Linked DNA regions of Homo sapiens: region 2 is reported to be linked to region 1. Evidence: microRNA targets listed by miRTarBase, many of them from high-throughput screens and not tested one by one. Region 1 holds a microRNA gene; the other region holds the end of a gene's coding sequence.
What was found. Region 1 holds the annotated microRNA hsa-miR-4695-5p (CAGGAGGCAGUGGGCGAGCAGG, at 3,636-3,657, shown strand). A microRNA usually pairs through its seed, bases 2 to 8, with sites in the 3' UTR of a target mRNA and lowers its output. Matches are read on the target gene's strand: a 7mer-m8 pairs with bases 2 to 8, a 7mer-A1 pairs with bases 2 to 7 and ends in A, and an 8mer does both.

Region 1 (5,071 bases):
CCCCATTTCCTAGATGAAGAGACTTAGGGAAGGAAGTGAGCTTACCTGGGGCCCCACAGCTAGTAGGTGGCAGAGCCAGGATTCGAACCCATGTCTCTCTGACCACAAAGGTCCGTGCTTTCCTGGAAAGACCCTGGGGTCTATGCCTTTCTCCTGGACTCTGAGCCTTCTGGAGAAGGAGCCATGTCTTACTCATGGTATAGCGGGTACACCAGCACCCTTAACAGGGAGCAACCTGTGGGCCGGGCACTGGGGAGGGTTTCATGGGAGCGGGGGAGGGGGGACAGCAGGCGTGTCCAGGACTTTCCTGGAAAACCGGCTCTGAGTCCAGTCCTCTTCATCCTTATCCTGGCACCTCCCTCCCGGGCAAGGACCTCACTCTTCTCTCCTTTCAGCCTTTTAACCATGGACATAAGGTGGCCAAGTTCTGTTATGCAGACAAGGTGAGTGAGCCTGTGTGCCTGGTGACCCGGGGTTAGGGTTGCTGCCCCTGCTCTGCCCTGCCAGCTGCTGATATGGCGGGGGCAGGGGGCATCAGTTGCTGTGTCCTTCTTTGGCCATGGTGGGTAGGTGGGCAGGGGGTGGCTGACACTGAGGGAGTCCCTGGGTGATGTCTTTGACTGGGCCAGGCATACAAAGGTTAACTTGAGCCAAACACAAGCTGCCTCAGCCAGGGCTGAGACATTCCCAGACATGCCCATTGTGGTGGGGCAGACCTTGGACTGGGGAGGAGGTGGATTCTGGAAGGCTGAGTCAGGGCAATTGGAGACACCATTGATGGAAAGCTAGGCCAAGAATTGGCACTGGAAAGGGCCAGCAGGAGGGGCTGGGGTGGCTGGGGGTCCAGGAACTGGCATTGTGTGGCGATGAGGGCAGTTGGGGTCTGGGAGGCCAGCAGCAGAGCCGTGTCTCAGGCTCCAGTTGACCTCAAGTTTCTGGATGGTGGGTTAAGGGGCACCAGGTCCCAAGAATAAGGTAAGGTTTTGATTAGACCATGAGAGAAAGTGGAGCCAGTGTAACAGCTGCGGGACTCAGTGCCAAGGCCTCGGAGAGCTGACCAACCTGGCCGGGCCCTTCAGGCTTCAGACTGGCAGCCACTACAGGCTCTGATGGGACGCTGTTGTTGGCAGCTATGGTGGCAGGGGGCTGAGGGCCCAGGGAGACAGGCATTGTCCCCGGATGGAAGAGAGTGGCCTCCCAGGTCTCTCCTCCCTCGCTCACTCCCCAGGGCCTTTCCCGCTGCAGGTGGCAGTCCCCAACCTCTCCCTCTCCCTTTAGAGCCTGCTCAACAAAGCCATTGAGGCTGCCCTGGCTGCCCGGAAAGAGTGGGACCTGAAGCCTATTGCAGACCGGGCCCAGATCTTCCTGAAGGCGGCAGACATGCTGAGTGGGCCGCGCAGGGCTGAGATCCTCGCCAAGACCATGGTGGGACAGGTGAGGTGCTGGTGGGCCCGGGTGGGTGGGGCGGGGTGGGGTGGGAGTCAGGTGTGCCCTACCCATGGCAGCAGACATCAGCTGAAGCGCTTCTGGGTCCTAAGCCCTTTTGGGGACCCAGAGATGTCCTCAAGGGACAAGGCCTAGGAGCTGGGATGGATGATCACAGATTATTAGGCGAGACAGATTGTGCAGAGCCCATGTGTCCTGCCTCGGAAATGTCCCCTCTCCTCCATCCCTCTGTCCTCGCTCCTAGGCCTTTGTCATGCTTTGCCTGGACTGGTGGTGGCCTGCACTGTCTCCCTGCCTCCTAGCTTGGTCAGCCCCTCGCCGCCCTCAGAGTGGTCTTTCCAACACCTCCAGGATGTTACTCCTGGCTTATGACCCACCCAGACCTCTCCACCACTGAGAGGCAAGTCCCAAGACCTGAGCCCCATACCCAGGGCCCTTCTGCCCACCTCTGTCCAGCTCGCCCACTGCTCTGCATTTCCCTGCCAAGCTGTCCTGCCCATAGTGTAGCCATTTGGCACTTAGCAGGACTCCCCGGCCATGGCAGGCATCCTCTCTGCCTCTGCCCACGTGTCCTCCTGCCTGGAATGCCTGCTGTCTCTTCCGTGCTCAGTGAACTCTTACCTCCTGGTCCAGCCCAGATGTCACCCCCTCCGTGAGACTTCCTGAGCCTTCTCCAGCCGAAAGGACTATTCCTGCCTCTGTTTCCCCAGAGCATGTTGTTCCTGCATCAGTTACAGCTCAGATTGCACTGGAGTGTATTGAGTTCCTAGGTACTGCCCCTTTACAAGCTTTTTGGACATAGTAAACATGTCTTGACATTCTCGGTCTTTTTCTGGGCTTTGCATGATACCTTTCAGGAGGCATAGCAAGCCCCTGATCAATGGTTTTCTCTGCACAGAGCTGGCATGACAGCTCCTCACCCTGCTAAATGCAAGTTGAGTGAGGAGTGGCTCTAGCAGGCAGAGTGTGCGGGGGACAGGAGTCGAGGGAGAAAGGGTTATTTCACCACCTCCAGGACCTGAGCCCTACGCTGCCAACTAACCTGGGTTCCTGAAGGGTAAATTGCAGGAGCCAGAACCCAGGCTGCTTTCTGGATCAGGCATTTGCCACTGCCTGCTCCTCGGTCCCCATGGTGAGCGCCCCCTCTGCTGCACAGAGCTGGTATGACAGCCCCTCAGCCTGCTAAATGCCTTCTTAGATTGGCTCAGCAGCCCTCTGGGGTGGGCGTCAGCTCTGCGTGTTCCTGGTGAGCCGCACGTTGCTGGGAAGACAGTCTAGGATCAGTTTAGGCTTTCTCTGTATTTGGCCTAAGACTCAGGAACTTCTAGGAAGCAAGGTACACATCTTAGCTCAGCTTCATGGGCTGTGTGTCTCTAATAGGTCGTGCACCTGCCAGTGACCTTGGGTGCCAAGAGGAGGCCACGTCAATCTGGAAAAGCCCCGTTCTTGGCTGTCCACAGTTCTTTTCCCTGCAGCTCACATTTGCTGTTATTAAGAATTGACGGTTTAAGGGAATCACAGTCACTCGCCTCTTGGTTTTTGGCCCAAACTAACCAGCAAGGCCGAACATCATTCCTGGGGAAGGAGCCATCCACCTCCCACACACCGAGTCTCTCTCCTGGTTTTCCAGTGACCAATCTCCAGCTCATGCTAATCTGCCCTTCTGTCTGGAAGGCTCTGATCCTGAATTTAGTCTGAGGCTTGACCATAGATCCTTTGCCATGCACCACCATTCAGAGTTGCTATGAAATGAAGACAGTGCATGGCAAGTACCTGGCCTGCTACAGAGGATCACTAAAATTCTTCTGATCCCCGTCCAGCCCAGAGGGCCGGCTACAGGAGGTGCTAGCTCAGGGGCTTGAGAATCCTTTCCCCCTCAGCCCCTGGGATGGGACCTGGTGAGCCCTCCAAATGTTTCCTGGTCCCTCCTGGGGCCCGGCTCAGTGCTCGCTTTGGGCACAGCGTCAGATGTGAGAAGAGGATGGACAGGAGGCTGTTGGCTGCTCCTGACCCCCGGCCCTCTGCCTTGCAGGGTAAGACCGTGATCCAAGCGGAGATTGACGCTGCAGCGGAACTCATCGACTTCTTCCGGTTCAATGCCAAGTATGCGGTGGAGCTGGAGGGGCAGCAGCCCATCAGCGTGCCCCCGAGCACCAACAGCACGGTGTACCGGGGTCTGGAGGTACCTGCAGGAGGCAGTGGGCGAGCAGGCGGGGCAGCCCAATGCCATGGGCCTGATCTCACCGCTGCCTCCTTCCCCAGGGCTTCGTGGCGGCCATCTCGCCCTTTAACTTCACTGCAATCGGCGGCAACCTGGCGGGGGCACCGGCCCTGATGGTGAGATGTGGGCACAGGTGGGACAGCGGCAGCTGGTTGTCCTCCTGGTCCCAACAGACAGACAGAGGCCACCCTGAGCCCCTTGGGTCTCAGCCTAGTCATGGGGAGAGGCACAGAAGGTGGAGGCAGCTTGGGGCTGTGGGTAGGCTTTGGGACCAGAGACCCAGTTTGAATCCCAGCGTCGTGCCTCTCTGCCTGGGAGACCCTGGCAATCCCTGAACTTCTCTGAGGCACAGTTTCCTCATCTGCAAAGTGGAAATAATAGGAAAGCCTCCATGACTGGGTTGTGAGGCTCAAATGAGACACATCCAGCAGCAGGCAGGGCTGGCCCGGAGCTGGCTGAGTGTTGGTGGCTCTGTTGATGATCATTACCGCTGACCTTCAGTGCTCACCACGTGCCTGCTGCTGTCAAGCACGGCATGGAGATGATCTCATTTCATCCTCTCAGCAGCTTCGAGAGGGAGTTGTGACTCTGCCTCTTTGCCAGATGACAAAACTGAGACACACAGCCGTGACTTACTTGGCAAGACTGAGTGACTAGTAAATAAATGATGGAGCAGAGAAAGATTTGGATGTAGTCTCTCTCGGGGTTGATGGTATTCAAGTCACTCCTCTGCCATTATCGGAGTGAGGTTGGCTATTACTGGATGAAGTCCCAGGCCTGTGGGGGAGGTGCAGCCCAGCTCCCAGACAGCCTGGGTGGGAGAGGTCCACATAGTTGTCGGGAACCCCGAGCCCCAGACAGGGGCACTGGATGCTGATGCCGGAGTGTGTACTAGGGACATGGATGGGGACGTCCTCATGCATCTGTGCACAGACAAACACGGTGCATGGCCAGGCGCCCACGTGCCTGGCTGCTGCACATGCCTGACCCAGGACATGTGCTGAGAGAGCCCGTGTGTACTTGCCCCGCCGCGCCCGGTGAGCACTCAGTGACTCTAGCAGTAAGAACAGACCTGCCTAGGTGATGGCAGGACCGGTTGGTGCAGGCTTCTGGGGAAAGGGAGCCTTGGCCAGAGCGTGGGGCAGATTGGGCTGTGCCGTGGCCTCCTTGGCAGGGACTTTTGGAGATAGGGCCAGACGCCTTGGAGGAGTGGGGTCGGGTAGGGGATGTCCTGGTTGGCACAGAGTCTGGTGGTTCCAGGTGAGGGACAACCATGCTGTAGGGTAGGGTGGGGTGGGGGTTGGGGGCTGGTGGCGCCATCCTCATGCATCACTGAAACACCTCCCGGGCAGGGCAACGTGGTCCTATGGAAGCCCAGTGACACTGCCATGCTGGCCAGCTATG
Region 2 (5,071 bases), not on the chromosome of region 1:
GCGTAGGGCCCACAGCCCCTCACACAACCCAGGCCAAGCTCCCTCGTACACTCAGACCAGGAGAAGAAACAGACACGCAATACACAAGCCCCGCTCCCTTGGAGCCTACACTTGGGCGAACACACCACTGCTGTTTGCAGTATCCCGAGACAGGCCCGGCAGGCGTGAGCTAAGAGGCCTCGGGCCCGAACTTGGGATTTGAGGCTCTCTCACATCGCCGGTCCCAGCGGCAGCGCCTGAGGCACAGCCAAGACCATCCGAGGTCCCCGGGCCGCGCGCAGGTAGCAGACTTCTTCAGAACTGGGGGAGCTAAAGAGAGAGTGGGCTTAGAGCCCAGGCCTCCCTGGATCCCAGATCCTCGCCTCCGCCTACAGCCAAGCCCCTCAGCTTTTGCCCAGAGCTGCTGACTTCCTCGCCGCCTCCCTGCGCAATGGGACCTAGAGATAAGCCCCAAGCCCGGGTGCTAGTCCAGGCAGAGTCGGGTGCTAGTCCAGGCAGAGTCCAGTGCTAGTCCGCGGCCTCAACAGAGCTGTCGGCTGGGCTCCGGAAGCCCACCCGGAACCTGATGGAGGCAGCGAATTCCTCAGAGCAGAGGACACTGCGGAGAGGCTCGAATCCACTTCCCACATTGTGCGGGACCGAGCGCGCAGGGCGCTCTCGCGTGGCCTCCTTAGCTCGGGTTCAGCCGAGGCTCTCACGTACACTTCGTTACCCCTTCCCCCCGCCGCAGCTCTGGTCCTTCCTTCCACTGGCTCTCTTCTCTGGCCTATGGAAACAACGAACTACTTTTCGCCTTTCAAGGCCCGGGTCCCAAGCCACCTCCTCTGTGAAGCCGCCAACACCCTGGTAGCTGCCTCTCAGTGTTTTGCAACTGGCACGGCCCTGTCCCTCGGTCCGCTTCTACTAGCGCTGGGGGTGCTGCGAGTCTTGCCCACTAGACTAGGAGCTCCTTGAGGGCAGGAACCGAATCTGATTCGTTTCCATTTTCCCAGCCCCCCTGCGCGGCCTGGCGCAGAAAAGACGCGCAATAAACATTTGCTGAATTGAATTGCGTTTTCTCCTTATTTTATTAATCCTTCCCCTTCCTTCTTTCATTCTTTCTTTTCCTCCTTCCTTCCTCCCTCGTTATTTTTTATTTCTTGGTTATATTCAATTGTCATGTTTTTCAGGCTCATTAAATCCATTTAGAGACAAAAGAATAAAAGGCAGAAGGGGAAGGGCGGGGGAGGAGAGAGGGGGAAGGGAGGGGAGGGGGCAGGCCGGAGAAGCAAACAAATAACCCGCTTTAACTAGACGGGCGGATAAATGGCCCCGTTTCTCCTCAGCCCCGACGCGCCTGCTTAGCTGCGCGCCCCGCGGGCGCCGCAGCTCGGGTGGGCTCAGCCCTGGGGCCGCCGCCCCCAGCCCAAAGGGACCCAGCGGGGCCAGGCCCAGGGCCGCGAAGCAGAGAGCGGCCGGAGGTGCCAGGGCCGCTTCATTGGGATTCATGAGCGTGTTGGGCGGGCGGCCTGGGGCTTCGGGCGCGGGGCGGGGGCCGAGTGGGGGGGTGCGCACGGCGGGCGCAGATGCCCGGGTGACCGACCCGCCGTGGTCCCTGCGCCGCCTTTGTGCCGAGGAGGCGCGCGCGGGGACCTAATCCATCAAATTGTCTACAAATTGTGAAGAAAATTCAAAAACCATATGGTCGCCAGCGCCGGCGCGCTCTGGGCTGCGGAGGGCCGCGGCCGTGCCCGCACCGGGAGCCGCGGGGGGCTGGGCCCGGCTATTGTCGCCTGTCAGCGGCCGCCCAGGCCCATTCGTCCCGGCCTTCATGGTCCGCGCTCCGAATTACAGACCCATCCATCCTAAGAGAGGGCAATTTTTGTCGCCCGGGAGGAACCAGCCGCACGCCTGCCCCGCTGCCCTGCCGTCTCCTTCCTTCTCTGCTCCTTCTCTCTCTTCTCCTCTCTTCCCATTCTTTTTTTCTCCCTCTGTCTCTGTCTCCCTTTCTCCGTTTCTCTGTTTCTCTCTCTTTTTCCTCTTTTTCTCCGTCCTGTCTCTGTGGCTCTCCGCTTTCTCTCTCTGCTTTTGGAGTGTCTTTCTGTGCTCCTATTTTTTTTTCCTGTTTCTCTCTGTCTCTTCGTTTCCTCCTGGACACGCACGTTCCTGGCTCGGGCCCGGGGGCCCCATCGCCGCCCGAGACCAGATGCGCATTTCTCACATCAATTTTGCGGAGAAAGAGAGCCCAGCGGCCCGGAGGCGGGACCCCACTCCGGTGACAGCGGCTACTCGCCAGCCCAGCGACAACAAAAGCCCGGAGAGAAACCCGCTCTGTCCAGGAAAGTGAAAGCGGCCTCAGCCCCCGCCCCAGCCGGCCTTGGGGCGCCGCAGACCCGAGAGAGTCCTTGCAAGATCCATACCTCTGCCCCCAGCGGTGTGCCGGGGTGTGGAGGCAGAATTGGTTAATGTTGCCAGAAATTCACACCAGCTCCCAGACGCTTGGGCTTACAGTTCCAGGTGCCCACATTGAAATTCAGCCTGGCCTTGATGCCTTTAGCCTTTGGCCCCCGACTCCCCAAGGATGAGGCCCTCGGGGCTAGAATCGAAACTTGGGAACCCAAGGCTCCACCCCGCGTCTGACTGAGTGATACCTGCAGCGCTCCCGGGGCTCAGCCCTGTTTTCGGGGAGTGCAGGGAGAATGCCCTTGGGTCTGGGGTGGGATGCAGGAAATGCAGGGCAAGACCCCCTCCCACCCTTTGTTCAACACAAATTAATGTTGTACTGTGGTGTGCCCCCACATACACAGGCATTTTCTCCCAGCATTTCACGGCTCGTTTTTTACCCCGACCTGGCGAAGCCCGCTTCTCTCCCGATTTAGCAGCTGCCTCAGGTTTATGGGCAAGAGGCGCCTCCTCCTGCTGCTTCCCCCTCGCCCTTCACTCTTAAGCCTGTCCTGAAAATCCCCCCCAAATCTCCAAGGCTAGGGCGACCGGCACGAAGAGCGGCAAGAAGCCCAGCCTGCCGCTGCTTCTCGGAAACGGGCCCACCACTCAGACACGGTCGCCGCCGGTTCTAGTAAAATGGCAAAGACTTTATTTATTGGAGAAAGAGGCCTTGGGTACAGTCTAGGGAGGAGAGGGGAAGGGAGGAGCAGGGAAGGGGCACTCGCAGCCCACTCACATCCAGCCACCCTCCTCTGGCCAAGTCGGGTAGGAGTGGGGTGTTCGAAGTGGCAAGAGAGACCCAGAGCTGTGGAGGAGGTGAGGTGAGGGCTTGGGTCGGCCTCCTCTCTGTCTCTGTCACATGCAAAAAAATTCTAAAAAGAGTACAAAATAATTATAGGGCTTTGGGTTCTGTTTTCGATAGTTGGTTGGTTGGATTTCCCCCTGCATTGTCCCTAAGAGCCGGACTCCAACAGTCAGTCCGAGGAAATGCGGGAGGGAGGGAGGAATCTTAAAAACAGCATTAGTGGGCATTAGGAGGCAGAAATGGCATCGAAAACAGACTTTTCTCTCAGAGGGTGGGGAGGAAAGATCGATTTTGAAACTTGCAAGTCAGGACCTGACTGCCCACCTCTTCCCCTCCCACATGAGGAAAAAAGGCCCGAGGAAATAGAAGTCAACTGCAATAAGGCCGAGGGAGGCGAGGAAGGAGCGGGCCGGTGCATTCGCCACATGCAGAGAAAAATCAAAACAGCCGGAGCTGCCACTCCCCTAGACCGCAGGGTTAGTGTTCCCCGCCCTGGTTTCTGTCTCGCCCTCAGCAAACCCGGCAGCCCGAGAGCTTTGAAAACATCGAAATCTCCGAGATTTAAAAAATAATAATAAAAGAAAGGAAAAATCAGGCTGCGGTGGGAAGAACCCGCTATATAGGTTTAAATATTTATATAGAAGCCATACAGAATTGCACGGCGAGGGCTTCCGGGGCGGCGGAGGCCGCTGGTGGCGGCCGGCCCGGCCGGCCAGCCTGGGTTTATTGCTTCGAGAGGGAAGAGGCGGCTGCCAGGAGCCGAGTCCGGGGCCGGGGACAGGGGAGGAGGCGGGAGTTGGCAGAGGAGGTCCCAGCTCCCCTCGGCGGTCCGGTCCGGGAGGCGTTGGGCTTTCGAGCGCTAGGAGCCCAGGGCGGCGGAAGACCCGGGGCGCCGCTCAATCGTCCACGTCGATCTCTTCGTCTTCCTCGTCCTCCGAGCAGTCCTGGCTGCTGGCCGGCTGGTCCGTGAGCGGAGAGGCAGGCGAGAGCTGCAGGGCGCCAGCGCCCGGGGCCTTCGGGGCGCCTGGGGGGAGGACCGGAGAGCCGGGCCTCGACTTGGCCCTGCCGCAGCCGCCGCCACCGCCGGCTGTGGCCTCCGAGTTCTGCTCGAGTTCGGCCAGCGCCACGATGTCCATCTGCCCGCTGGGGCCCAGTTTCTTGGCGGACTCTACGTCGGCCTTCATCTCCTCCAGGTCCCGCTTGAGCTTAGCGCGCCGATTCTGGAACCAGGTGATGACTTGCGCGTTGGTGAGGCCCAGCTGCTGCGCGATTTGGTCGCGATCGGCGGGGGACAGGTACTTCTGGTATAGAAAGCGCTTTTCCAATTCATAGATCTGGTGGTTGGTGAAGGCCGTGCGCGACTTTCGCCGCTTCTTAGGGGTCTGCCGCTGCCCAAAGATGGTCATACCGTCGCGGCCTGGGAGGAAAGGACAGTGTAGGCTCGCGTTGGGAGAGAGGAAGCCCACCCTGGCTCTCGCCCCCGTAACTCCGTAACCCACCCAGGCCTGTCCGGCCTGCAGTCTACCAATGTTCCCTTCTCAGATTTAATTCAGCCTCCAGGACCAGGGCAAGTCTTGGCTATGGCAAACCATCTCCTGTCTTTGGTCTCCCAGAAGTCCCTAGGAAAAATTGTTTTGGTCTCTGCCCCCTACCTAAGAGTTGGTTTGAAAGACCCAAAGTCTCTAAGGGTATGAGAAAGCCAGACAGAGACACCCTAATTGCGGTGTGAATGTTGGTTCTCCATCCCTTCCCAATCACTTCAACTCTACCCTACCCATAAGGTCCCCGGCAAAAGACTCTCGATTCCCCACGCCGAGTAGCCGGGCTAAGAGCGCCCAGGAC

Region 2: miRTarBase lists LBX1 as a target of hsa-miR-4695-5p. Seed matches in the 3' UTR shown: 7mer-m8 at 4,014-4,020.

Annotation. Positions count from the first base shown.
Region 1 is chr1:18,881,836-18,886,906 of GRCh38, reverse strand. It overlaps MIR4695 (microRNA 4695), which reads left to right and starts at 3,632; the gene lies at 3,632-3,705. ALDH4A1 (aldehyde dehydrogenase 4 family member A1) reads left to right here. Exons shown (of 15, transcript NM_003748.4): 4 at 396-443; 5 at 1,279-1,434; 6 at 3,479-3,628; 7 at 3,709-3,783; 8 at 5,020-5,071. RefSeq lists a silencer at 2,547-2,778.
Region 2 is chr10:101,223,145-101,228,215 of GRCh38, forward strand. LBX1 (ladybird homeobox 1) reads right to left here. Exons shown (of 2, transcript NM_006562.5): 2 at 3,850-4,646. The coding sequence ends at 4,126. It overlaps LOC124902491 (a long non-coding RNA gene), which reads left to right. Exons shown (of 2, transcript XR_007062267.1): 2 at 1-1,048. Among named protein-coding and RNA genes, the nearest start is that of LBX1, 3.8 kb to the right of the region's middle. RefSeq lists enhancers at 1-195, 2,970-3,471.